Homo sapiens: one gene and its partners. The protein of the gene in region 3 interacts with the protein of the main gene of each other region in a biochemical or structural test. Each region holds a gene or a part of one and is shown on either strand. Other genes may lie near its edges. The genes, in order: CALCR, COL5A1 and THBS1.

Region 1 (3,654 bases), on a different chromosome or scaffold from region 3:
CTGTAAACCACTAGAGGCTGGTGGAATAGTCTCTTGAAAGCAAGATAAGCTACAGGAAATAAACAAAATTTTAGCTTTTGCACACTCCAATTTGTGACAGTTAAATGGAGATGTTTCTGATCATGCTACTTCCTTCTATAAACTATTTTATCCACGATGTACGGAGAATAGAAAGACACAAGAAAAGGGAGAAAATCTAGTGTGTTGTTAGAACTTTCATTTCTATGCTACTTCTTGGAAACAAATTGTGCATTTTTATAGCTGCAATCATCTTTTTCAGGTCTCTTAGGTACCTAATAATTTACTGATATGTTTGGATAATCAATGTCCACTCACTTGGAAGAGTCATTGTAGGAAATGCTTGATACATAAGCATGCTCTCATGGTCCTCTCCTGATTTCTATTACTTTAATTCTTCAAGTTCCTTTCCTGCTTCTAGTCTACCCACTGACTCTCTATATAATTCATTTTCATAATGATCATTTCACTGATAACATACCAATAATGAATCAAAATTCAAAAATGAAATAATAATTTCACTGATAACATACCAATCATAATCAAAATTAAATTGCACATAACACAATGTGATGTGATCTCATTATTATGTTGAGTTAGCCCCCTAGATTTCTGCTAAAACTCAGTATTCAGCCAGGCACCATCCCATCACAGCCCTATCTTAGATGCAGCTGGAAATAACTTCCTGCATGTGTGAGTGCCCTGCCTGTGTTCAATATTGTAAGGTGATGCATTCGCAGAATGACCAGCTGAGACCCAGATGCCTAAAATCCATGGGTCTGTGATATTACATCTGGCACAGTACACAATTCTATATTATTAGAAATGTCACACTTTTACCTTCCCCCAGTAACGGGATCTTAATGAAAATGGAAATGGTTTCTTTACTTCAAAATCAGAGATAACATATAGTCAAATGAACTCGAGACATTCAATTGCTAGGGTACCCCTGGGTTTGCTTTCTATGTCTGACACTTCCAATGACAGTATCATAGATAAGACACAATAAATATTGTGGTATTTTTACGAATGCATGCAATCCTCTTGTGTTTTTCCAGGTATGCCCCACTGAGCCTGATTTCTCATATTAGCTCTATTTTGATATTATTTTAGACAAAAAATTTATTTTGCATGCCACCTGAAACAACCCAAAAGGCATGGATATACATTCACAGAAATTGATATAAACACGGGGTGACTTACGCCCTACTCATTTATTAGTTTTTATCATTCTAAAAAATATTAAAATTCTAAAAATATTGCCACTCTAACAGCGGGCAATGGAAGGATGTCTTTTCATTTCTATTCTAGGCCCTTAGTCTAGCCCTTAGCAATAGTAAATGCACAATGTATTTTTGTTGAATGAAGGAATGAGTTGGTAGGTGAATGGATGAAGAAAGAAAGGAATAAAATGTAATAACTAAAATGGAGAATAGGAACAACAAAAACTTTGTCATGTTGCGGTTGGAAACGGGTATGAACAGGTCACAGAATAGCAAAATATTGTAGGTGCTCACTAAATATTATTTAACTTAGTAAAAAGATAGAGAATAAATTAGCAACTGACAATGGCTAGAAATGTTTCTAATTACTAATAGGAAAGTAATATATTGATGTCTTGGCAAAATGTGATTTGCCTTGTATGGAATTATTCTTAATAGGAATTGATTTAAAATGTTCAAAAATGCTTTGGCATTAAAAGTTGTGTGGTCCTAGAAAAAACATACTAACATAGCTCCAGGAAGGAATTATAGATATAGATAAGTTAATTGGGAGTTGGTCAGTTTAATTGAAAAACAGGAAATCTGTGTTCCAGTCTGGGTTATAACCATAAGTGCATTTGTGACATTGGGTAAATCACATGATCTTTCTGGAGTTCAGATTTCTTCCCTGAAAAATGAGGAAGATTTTGAATCATGTTCCCTAAAACCCTGGAAGTTCTTTGGAAGGATGTCTGGAGCTATAGAAGCTCCATTTTTATGTTTTATAGATTTGGCTCCCAGGCAAGATTTGGTTGGAAGAAAGGGTAACTCTGGCTAAAAACACCCTGAGAACAGAATGGATCAGCCATATGGCTCTCTAGATTTTACTGATCTAAATATTCACATTGTAGATTATTTGAGAATCCTTTTTGAATCTTCACTTCAGGGTGATTTTCAAAACGCTGAGTAAGTAGTAGGGCGTTAGCACCAAGCAACTGGAAAAGAAGGTGAGGAACTAGTACAAACCGAATGGAGATTGTCTCTGCCCTAGTGAGGGCTCGGGTCTTCCGAAGGGAATAGGAATATGACTTCTCTTTGTGATGGCATCCAGAATAGCTTTCACTATTGCTCCTGAGGGTGCTGATCTGTTCAAGATGCAACCCAAGGAAATTAACTGCCTGTCTGAATCATATTTGCCATTGTACTACACATCCATGGATAAGATTCAGCTTGGAGTAGTGGAAAAAACATCATGTTGCTAATCACAAAACCCTATGAGGTCAACTGTAGAAGTGAGATGAAATGAAATTTGTACAGAGGCCCTTTGGAAAAAATGCTGCCTTTACACAAACAAGTGATAGTATTATATGAAATGCATGCTTACCTCATTGTTGCAGAAGCAGTAGATGGTCGCAACAAAGAAGCCCTAAAAAGGGAAGGAAAAATACAGTTGAAGTTATTTTTGTGTGCATTATGTTGTTTAGTAAACAATATAATAGACTGCCCAGAGAAGGCCTGATGAAAAAAAAAAAAAGCAAGAAAAAGAATTATCTACCATTCATAGTCAGTGCTGCACTATAAGAATATTCCCTTAGAAATATATTTTTCTTGTTAGGATTCCATCGTTTGGCTAGAAGGACGGATTAATATTTTGCTAATCTAAATAATATTTTGCTCCCTTTAACATGGAGATTTATAGCAGCATATGCTGATTATGGTGAATTTGAAAAAAAAAAACTACACTTAGAAAATTTAAAAATGGAGACCTTGCAGAATTCAGTAGAGGGATCTTTTACAAGACAAGTGTCATAGTGGGAGGCTGTGGGTCTGTGTCCTATGTTGTCATGGTGAACTAGTGCAATACTGTACCCACCGCCAAGTTCATCGCTCAGATAAGGACATGGACTAAGAAACTGCCTGAGTCCTGGTCACTGCTTGAAGATTTCTTGTGCCCAAGTTTTGATTATGGCTAAAAGAACAGTTCGAACTATTCAAACGATCCCTAAACTTTCTTTCTGGCCCTATTAATTTTGACCTCCTCCTCACATTAAGCCTAATATAGAAAATAAAACTATTTTGAAATTTGTAATAGAGACAGCAAAACTCTGGCCTAAGAGCCTGTGATAGAATTACTCCTGCCAAGGACTCCCACATCCTATCTTGCTATCCAAATACAGCATTATGCTTTCAATGGGGCTTTAGATCTGGGTAAAGGTGAATGGAACTAGGGCAGCCATTCTCCTATCCAGTGCGGCAGACACTGGACAGCCCAGGACAGCCCCTGAGAGCCCACTGCATTCTCTCTTACATGAGGGGAGGCCTGGATACAACTTCCCTTTATAGCACTGAACCGTCATGAATGGATTCCTAACATTCACCTGACAAATGGAGAGTGATAGAGCAGGAGGCATGGACAGCCTTGTGCAAATTCCTC
Region 2 (3,654 bases), on a different chromosome or scaffold from region 3:
GCCCATGGGGGTCGATCCGTCCCAGAAAGACGTTCTGGGCTTGAAGCGGTGTTTAAAACACTCAACGCCAAGCGTCAGATGCAACGTCCAGTGTGATCTCGGTCAAGGTAAGGCAGGAAGGGCCTGGTGAGGAGAGGCACTGGCCCTGCTAGGCAGAGCTGTGGGTAAGATCTGACGTTCCCGGGCGAGCCCATGGTGGGTCGTGGAAGCCCTGGGGCTGCCTGCAAACCTGCTGCTGAGACAGCACGTGCATCTCAGAGGGAGTTCATGAGCTCTGTCACTGTCCAGAATCAATATCATAAGGGAATCAACATCATAAGGGAATCAATATCATAAGGGAATCGATATCATAAAGGAATCAATATCAACTAGGTTGGAGTTTTTCCCAGAAATGAGTCAAGCAAGCTGCAAGGTCCCAAGAATACACTGACACCTCCACCAGGAAGCCAGCCCAGATTGTGGACTCACCGTCTGCCCGGGTTCACCATCATCTCCTTTGTCACCAGGGGGACCATCTTGACCCTATGGAGGCAAAAGCGAGCTCCTTGCTGAACCCCGGATGGCACCCTGAGTTCATGCACCAGTTCCCAATGCATCTCCAGCCCCTTCCCAAAACCCAAATCCATTCTGGTGCCAGCACAGAGCATGGTCAGTGGGGTCAAAGGCGTTTTCTTGCTCTGATCACCGGAACACGAGTGCCTTTTGGGACATTGCCTGCCCCAGTGGGAGTTCATCACAAAGAACCACCAGAAAGAGGGGAAATGGGGCTGGCAGAGGCAGGCCAGCACTGTGGGGGATCCGGTGGCTTTGCCCTCTTGAGCACCTACCGCGGGGCCAGGCTCTCCGGGGGGGCCAGGATCTCCAGGAAAACCCACTGGGCCCTGAAAGGAAGAAAGAAGGAAGCAGCCAAGGCCATCAGCAACCTGACTGAGACCACACACGGCCAATCATGTCACCACCTCAAGATGGCCACCTGCCACCGTCCAGCTCCTAAGACTTTCCAGCAGTTCCGACAACCCAGTGCACTTTATGGCCCAGAGACCCTTCCACGTGCAGCATGTCCCAGAGCCAGCAAGCCTGGCCAGTGGGCATGGCAGGGGTCAGCTGGTCTCTTGCTTTCCAGAGCCAAGCAAGGGGCAGGCGTTCCGCCCACAGGTCTATTCCTGGGAGCTCCAGGCTGCAACTAGAACCTGGACCTTCAGACTTCCGGAATGTGCCTCTCCGAAGCCCCTCCTGATGCAAAATCAGGGCCGGCCAAGGGCGGGGGCAACTTCCCAAAGCCTGGCTGTCACTCGTGCATCTCAGCCGGCCGCCTGGCCCACAGAGAAGAATCACTCAGGGCTTTCTCCTCCAGTCCACGCCCTGTCTCATCTCCACTATTTTGGTTCAGTAGCTGGTATGAAAACCTCTAGTGTCTAGAAAATTTACCCAACACATGGAATGGTCTTGAAGCTGTTCTCAGAGCAGAGTGCACCGCCAGTGAGTCAGAATGATCCCAGTGCAGAGCCCCGCCCCTGCTGCAGGGCCCCTGAGGTGTGTCTGGAATACTCACAGGGCTGCCTTTGGGACCATCATCTCCGGGAGGGCCTTTGGGTCCAGGGGGTCCGGCAGCACCTGAAGGGCCTGACTCGCCCTTCTCTCCCCTTTCTCCTTTGGGTCCCTGGAGGAAAGAGGCCAGTGTCAAGTCCTCAGAGCCAACCACGTCGCCGCCCAGAGCAAGGTGGGCCTCCCCGGTTTTCTCACCCCATTCAGACCAGCCTTTCCAAGTATCTGCTGAGCCCTGCAGGGGGCTGGCTGCCAGGTCGCTCCCCAAGCCCTGGGCAGAATCAGCTCCTGTGTGCACCCTGAGGGGGACCTGAGGAGCCTTCACTTTCTGGGGCCCTCAAAGCCTGAGATTCAGCTCTGGGTGGGAGGGACTGACTCCTGGACCAGACATCAGTCAGTGAAGACCACAAGGGGTGCCCACAGACTCCACGGATCTCATGGGGAGGGAGCAGCTAGAACCAGAAGACCCGAGTCCACCCAGCTGGTCCTGGGCCTGAAAGCCACCTTTGGGCTGGCCTCATAGTGAACATTCATCTGGCCTGAGAAGGCCTGGATATTCCTAGTCTGGCCCTCAAGGTCCGGGGGGACGAGGTGACAGCAGCTGCCCCGCGAAGGGGCCAGGAGCAAACACTACAGAGGGTAGAGTTACTGCAGGCCACTGGGCACAGGTAGCTATTGCTAGGTCTGCGTGTACATGCTGACTCCCACATCACACACCTTGTTCACGGTCATTCCATGAAATGGGCACAAGAGGGGTTACAACTCCCATTTCGTGGATGGAAAAGCTAAGGCAGAGCCAGAGCCTCCAACCCAGCACCCCGTCCACACACCCGCTCGGCCATATCCCACCCCTCCCGCAGCGCCCGCTCACTCACCGGGGGGCCGCCTTCTCCCGGAAGGCCAGGCTCACCTGCTTCGCCAGGCTCGCCCTAGGGAGACAGTGCATGTGGTTATGGCAGCGGTGAGCACCGCGATGAACGCAGTGCTACGGTTTCAAGCATTTGCCAAATCCTGCCTGCTGTCTGCCTGCCCCTGGGCACCCAGGACCCAGGGGTTTCTGGGGAGTGCTGTCCCCACACACTCCCAGAATTGGAGGTGCGTGAGGAATGTGGCAGGCACGTGATGGATACAGGGCAGAGTGTCCAGACTGCAAGCAACACTGTCTGTGAAGGCTTTCCCGGAGCGCTGCTCCAAGGGTTGTGGAGGGCAACTATGAGAAGCTGGTAAGTGGCTAGGATGGCACTCCAGGTGGGGGATGGCCAGGGCCGAGGCAGGAGGACAGGCACGCAGTCCTCAGGGACACAGGCCAGAGGGACGCAGGGAAGAGGGCATGCACAGTGGCAGCAGGTGAACAGAAACATGCGCCCTACAGCGGGGACACCAAGGAAAACACCGCCTCTCTGAGCAGAAGCCGCACACCATCACCCTGTGGTCTCAGCAGGGCATATTCCTCTTTAATTTCTGTATCATAAAAAATGAGCAGCGGTGGAAGGCGTCTTCCAATTTAATGGCCTGATTGATGTCAGAAAGAAAGCTCTGGAAACGGTGCACAGGGGGCTCAAGTGCATGGATGTACACTCTGTCTTCCCTCTTGTCCAGGGGAACTGGGAGAGGTGCTTTTGCAGTCAGGCAAATGCTGTCCCACCCAGCATGCAGGCACACACACATGCACCGATGTGCACACAGGAGCTCACACACACAGGCACACACACACACACGACTGGGTCCATGACGCTCATGGAGTCTGGGCTCCAAAACCAATCAGATCAAATGGAGAGGACCCATTTGAGAAAATAATTCGGCTGAAATGGAAACTGCAAGCTTAGAAACACCAGTTATTTAAGGAATAGATGATCTCCACCAGAGCTGAGTCTTGGAGGAGGCAGGGGCTTTGCTGGTGGGGCATCGTCTGGAAATTCTGCAAAAGGCTGTCACAAATGGACAGTCAGAGTTCCCAGTTCCATTTCACAAGCATCTGCCTACATTTCAAAATGCCCTTCATAGGAATAAACCAGCCATGCCCACAGAAATGAGTACTTCTCATCTCTGTGTACACACAGAGAGGTACACACACGTGTATGCACCCCCACAAGCGTGTGCATGCGCACA
Region 3 (3,654 bases):
AGCCCTGCCATCCGCACTAACTACATTGGCCACAAGACAAAGGACTTGCAAGCCATCTGCGGCATCTCCTGTGATGAGCTGTCCAGCATGGTCCTGGAACTCAGGGGCCTGCGCACCATTGTGACCACGCTGCAGGACAGCATCCGCAAAGTGGTCAGTGGCCTCTGCACCCAGCCCGTTAGCATGAACCCTGGAAGGTTTATCGCAGATGGTCCCAAATGACTGAAAATGCGGGGGGACACTAATGATATTCTCTCCCATTTAGACTGAAGAGAACAAAGAGTTGGCCAATGAGCTGAGGCGGCCTCCCCTATGCTATCACAACGGAGTTCAGTACAGAAATAACGAGGAATGGACTGTTGATAGCTGCACTGAGTGTCACTGTCAGGTAAGGGACCTTCACCAGCCAGAATAAGAATCGACGGCTTTTGTTTGAACCTACATCTTTGGGGAAATACCCTAATCGCCACAGAGATTCTTTTTATGTTCCATGGCCTGATAACAAAGTGTTTTTTTTTTCTTTAAGATGCAATTATGGCATCTATAAGTTCTTCTTTAAACTCTCAGATGGTTTATCAAAGTATTAATTATACCCCAGGCTAAGTATCTAAGAGAATGAATCTACTAAGACATCTGAATAATTTACCTACCTTAGTTCAAAGACTAAGTGTTGAATGTCAGGTAAATAAAACCTGGTTGGAACATTCATTTTTTTTTCCCAACCCTGATTTATATTCAGCTTTGGCATAGGTTCTTTTAGTACAGTAGCAATTGTTTTTCAAATCACTTAGTCTGACACTGTTAGGATGTTACTGTCTGCTTTGCTCAGATGGCACTGCCAGGTGTGTGATTCACTCTAGCATCCCCGCATGCCAGTGGCCAGTGAGTTTGGAGGTTCACCTGGCTTATCTATTAATAGCAAAGTATTTGAATTTGCTTAAATACAAATCACAGATGACTGGCTGTGGGAACCAACTTCATTAAATTCCCTTTCTTTTCCAATATAAAGACAGATCACAGATCTATAGATGAGGAAAAAGTGCTTATAGATCTTCCTTCCTCCCCCCAAACACATAATATAAAAATGTAAAAGTCCTGGCTGAATTTTCTGAGTTTGATTTCAGACATAGATTTGACCCATGATGTTTGTTGGTTCCTCTGCTATAAATTCTTTGTACTGTAACTTCCACCCTTGACTAAGTAGCAATTAAAAAGAACTTTCCAAGGAATGGAGTGACACGTAAACTAGCACTAGAACTGTCTCTACGATAGTGGTGGCTGCAAATATGACAGAGACAGATCTATGAAAATCATTCCACTAGAGCATTGACAGCCCTGACCATGTTTTGGCTTGTAAAGGAAATGTTACAGGATGTAGACTTCTGTATGCAACATGCTCAGCAGCCTGTTCCCCTCTCACTCTCTTGCCCTGCAGAACTCAGTTACCATCTGCAAAAAGGTGTCCTGCCCCATCATGCCCTGCTCCAATGCCACAGTTCCTGATGGAGAATGCTGTCCTCGCTGTTGGCGTAAGTTTCTCAAATGGCATAGCTATTCTTCAGTGACTAGGTCAGTTCTACATACATCCTAGACAGCCGAGCACAACACTGGAACCCCACCCCCATCTCCATCATGCTTCCATTCAGTTTCTTGCTGCAGCAGCTGGTTAACTGACAGCTTATCTGCTGTACAGAGCCAAAACTCCATTATGAGTACATCGTAATTACCCATCTGGATTGCAGTAATGGCAGTGAAGATCTTGGTATAGCTCATTAATTCTGATTTTTTGCTTTGAGGAAAAGAGATGAAGACGTGGCAGCAACAGCTCTAAGTTGACTGCTTTTAGAATTTGACCTTAGTGGCACAGAGTTAAGAAAAATCTGCTCACCAGAGATATTGACAGGCTTACTGTGTAAGCATTGGCCTGATCGGGCCTGGAAGTTTTGCCCCTTTCATCTGTAGGGATAAGAGGGCCTAAGAGAATAGCAGCAATCTGAGCTCTAGAGCACCAAAAGAAATAAGGCACGATATCGTTCCATGGCACGTTATCCCTGGCTTTTGTTACCAGTAAAATGAATGACTTTGCTGAGACAATACTTAGTGTAGCAGGTACAAGTTATAAAAGTGATTCATTACAACTAAGATAAGGAAGAAAACAGGAAAACAGCACTTGCCCTTCACACACACAGAAACACACATGCACACACACACAAACACACCCTTGTCACAGCTCAGAATAACCAATTCCATCCAGGGATCATATTAGCGATATTGGCACTGTAATGGTCGTTTTTACATTTATTTTCTGTTCCGCATTCACTTAACATGTGCGTTAAAAGGAACAAAGCTAGCTGGAGGTAGCAAAGTTTTGAACTTGAATCAGGGATTGCTAAGAAAACTTACAACTAATGACCACAGAAAGTAAGTTCTTTGTCTTCTGTCTGATACAGCTAGATGTGATTGTAGCCGTGGTGCCTGGGCAGATGGTAAACAAACATGCTGTCCTCTTATGACAATATGTGCAGAGAAGGCCCCAAACGCTGGGGTGAGAGGAACAACAAACTGACTAACTCACGGCCGAGTTGGAGCCAGAACCAACAACAGCTCGGCTGCCTTCACACTCATCTGTCAAACACATGGTGTATGGCTCCCCTGACAGAAATGACTCCTATAAGCTTCCTCATACTCGCGCATTCTTGGAAGTCTGAGACTGGAAATGCCTACCCAGATATGTTAAGTCAGTAAAGGAAAACTCATTTGCAATGCTGAGAGGAGAAAGAAAATCAATGAATAGGAGAGCATACACTGTGGGAAGGCTCAGCTGTACTGAGCCAGGCAAAGCATCCGATTACCCCACTGCTGTACACATCATGACCTGGGATAAACCCCTGGGCCGTTGGCCTAAGAAATATGTTGCTTTTCATCCTGTATAACTGCAACTTTGTGCCGGCTCATATTATGTTCTAGAGAGCTCATGTACACCATGGTGACCATAGTTAATAATACTGGATTGTATGCTTAAAATTTGCTAAGAGAGTAGATCTTAAGTCATCACCAAAAAAAGTAACTGTAAGATGATGGAGATGTGTTAATTAGCTTGACGGTGGTAATCACAATATATGTGTATATCAAAACATCACATTATACACCTTAAATGTATATAATATTTGTCAATTATACCTCAGTAAAGCCAAAAAGAAATAAATATATTGCTTTTCACCCTCTGGCAAGTGGAGGGCCCTGAACAGAGCCCTCTAAAGAACAGCTTGTCCTAATCATCACGTACCTGATGAACCTCTGTTTCCCCTGCAGCCAGCGACTCTGCGGACGATGGCTGGTCTCCATGGTCCGAGTGGACCTCCTGTTCTACGAGCTGTGGCAATGGAATTCAGCAGCGCGGCCGCTCCTGCGATAGCCTCAACAACCGATGTGAGGGCTCCTCGGTCCAGACACGGACCTGCCACATTCAGGAGTGTGACAAGAGATGTAAGCATCTTAGCCTCTCAGGGACGTGGAGAACTGACCTGTCCTTGTTGTCGTCACCAAGGGCAGCTCCACAGCATGTATATTAAGAACACGGGTTCTAGGATCTCTGGATCCCAATCCCACTGCTTAGCTGTGCACCCTTGAACACAACTTACCCTCTCTGAGGCT

What was found.
Region 1: the proteins of THBS1 (region 3) and CALCR form a complex in vitro, tested with the Homo sapiens proteins (one study listed by BioGRID).
Region 2: the proteins of THBS1 (region 3) and COL5A1 form a complex in vitro, tested with the Homo sapiens proteins (one study listed by BioGRID).

The regions. Positions count from the first base shown.
Region 1 is NC_000007.14:93,431,649-93,435,302, forward strand, and holds part of CALCR (calcitonin receptor isoform 2 precursor), read right to left. Parts: intron 2,647-3,654; coding exon 2,605-2,646; intron 1-2,604. UniProt on the Homo sapiens protein: G protein-coupled receptor activated by ligand peptides amylin (IAPP), calcitonin (CT/CALCA) and calcitonin gene-related peptide type 1 (CGRP1/CALCA).
Region 2 is NC_000009.12:134,812,803-134,816,456, reverse strand, and holds part of COL5A1 (collagen alpha-1(V) chain isoform 1 preproprotein), read right to left. Parts: intron 2,475-3,654; coding exon 2,421-2,474; intron 1,661-2,420; coding exon 1,553-1,660; intron 882-1,552; coding exon 828-881; intron 523-827; coding exon 469-522; intron 1-468. UniProt on the Homo sapiens protein: Type V collagen is a member of group I collagen (fibrillar forming collagen). It is a minor connective tissue component of nearly ubiquitous distribution. Type V collagen binds to DNA, heparan sulfate, thrombospondin, heparin, and insulin.
Region 3 is NC_000015.10:39,584,035-39,587,688, forward strand, and holds part of THBS1 (thrombospondin-1 precursor), read left to right. Parts: coding exon 1-153; intron 154-265; coding exon 266-388; intron 389-1,435; coding exon 1,436-1,529; intron 1,530-2,091; exon of another isoform or gene 2,092-3,219; intron 3,220-3,312; coding exon 3,313-3,486; intron 3,487-3,654. UniProt on the Homo sapiens protein: Adhesive glycoprotein that mediates cell-to-cell and cell-to-matrix interactions.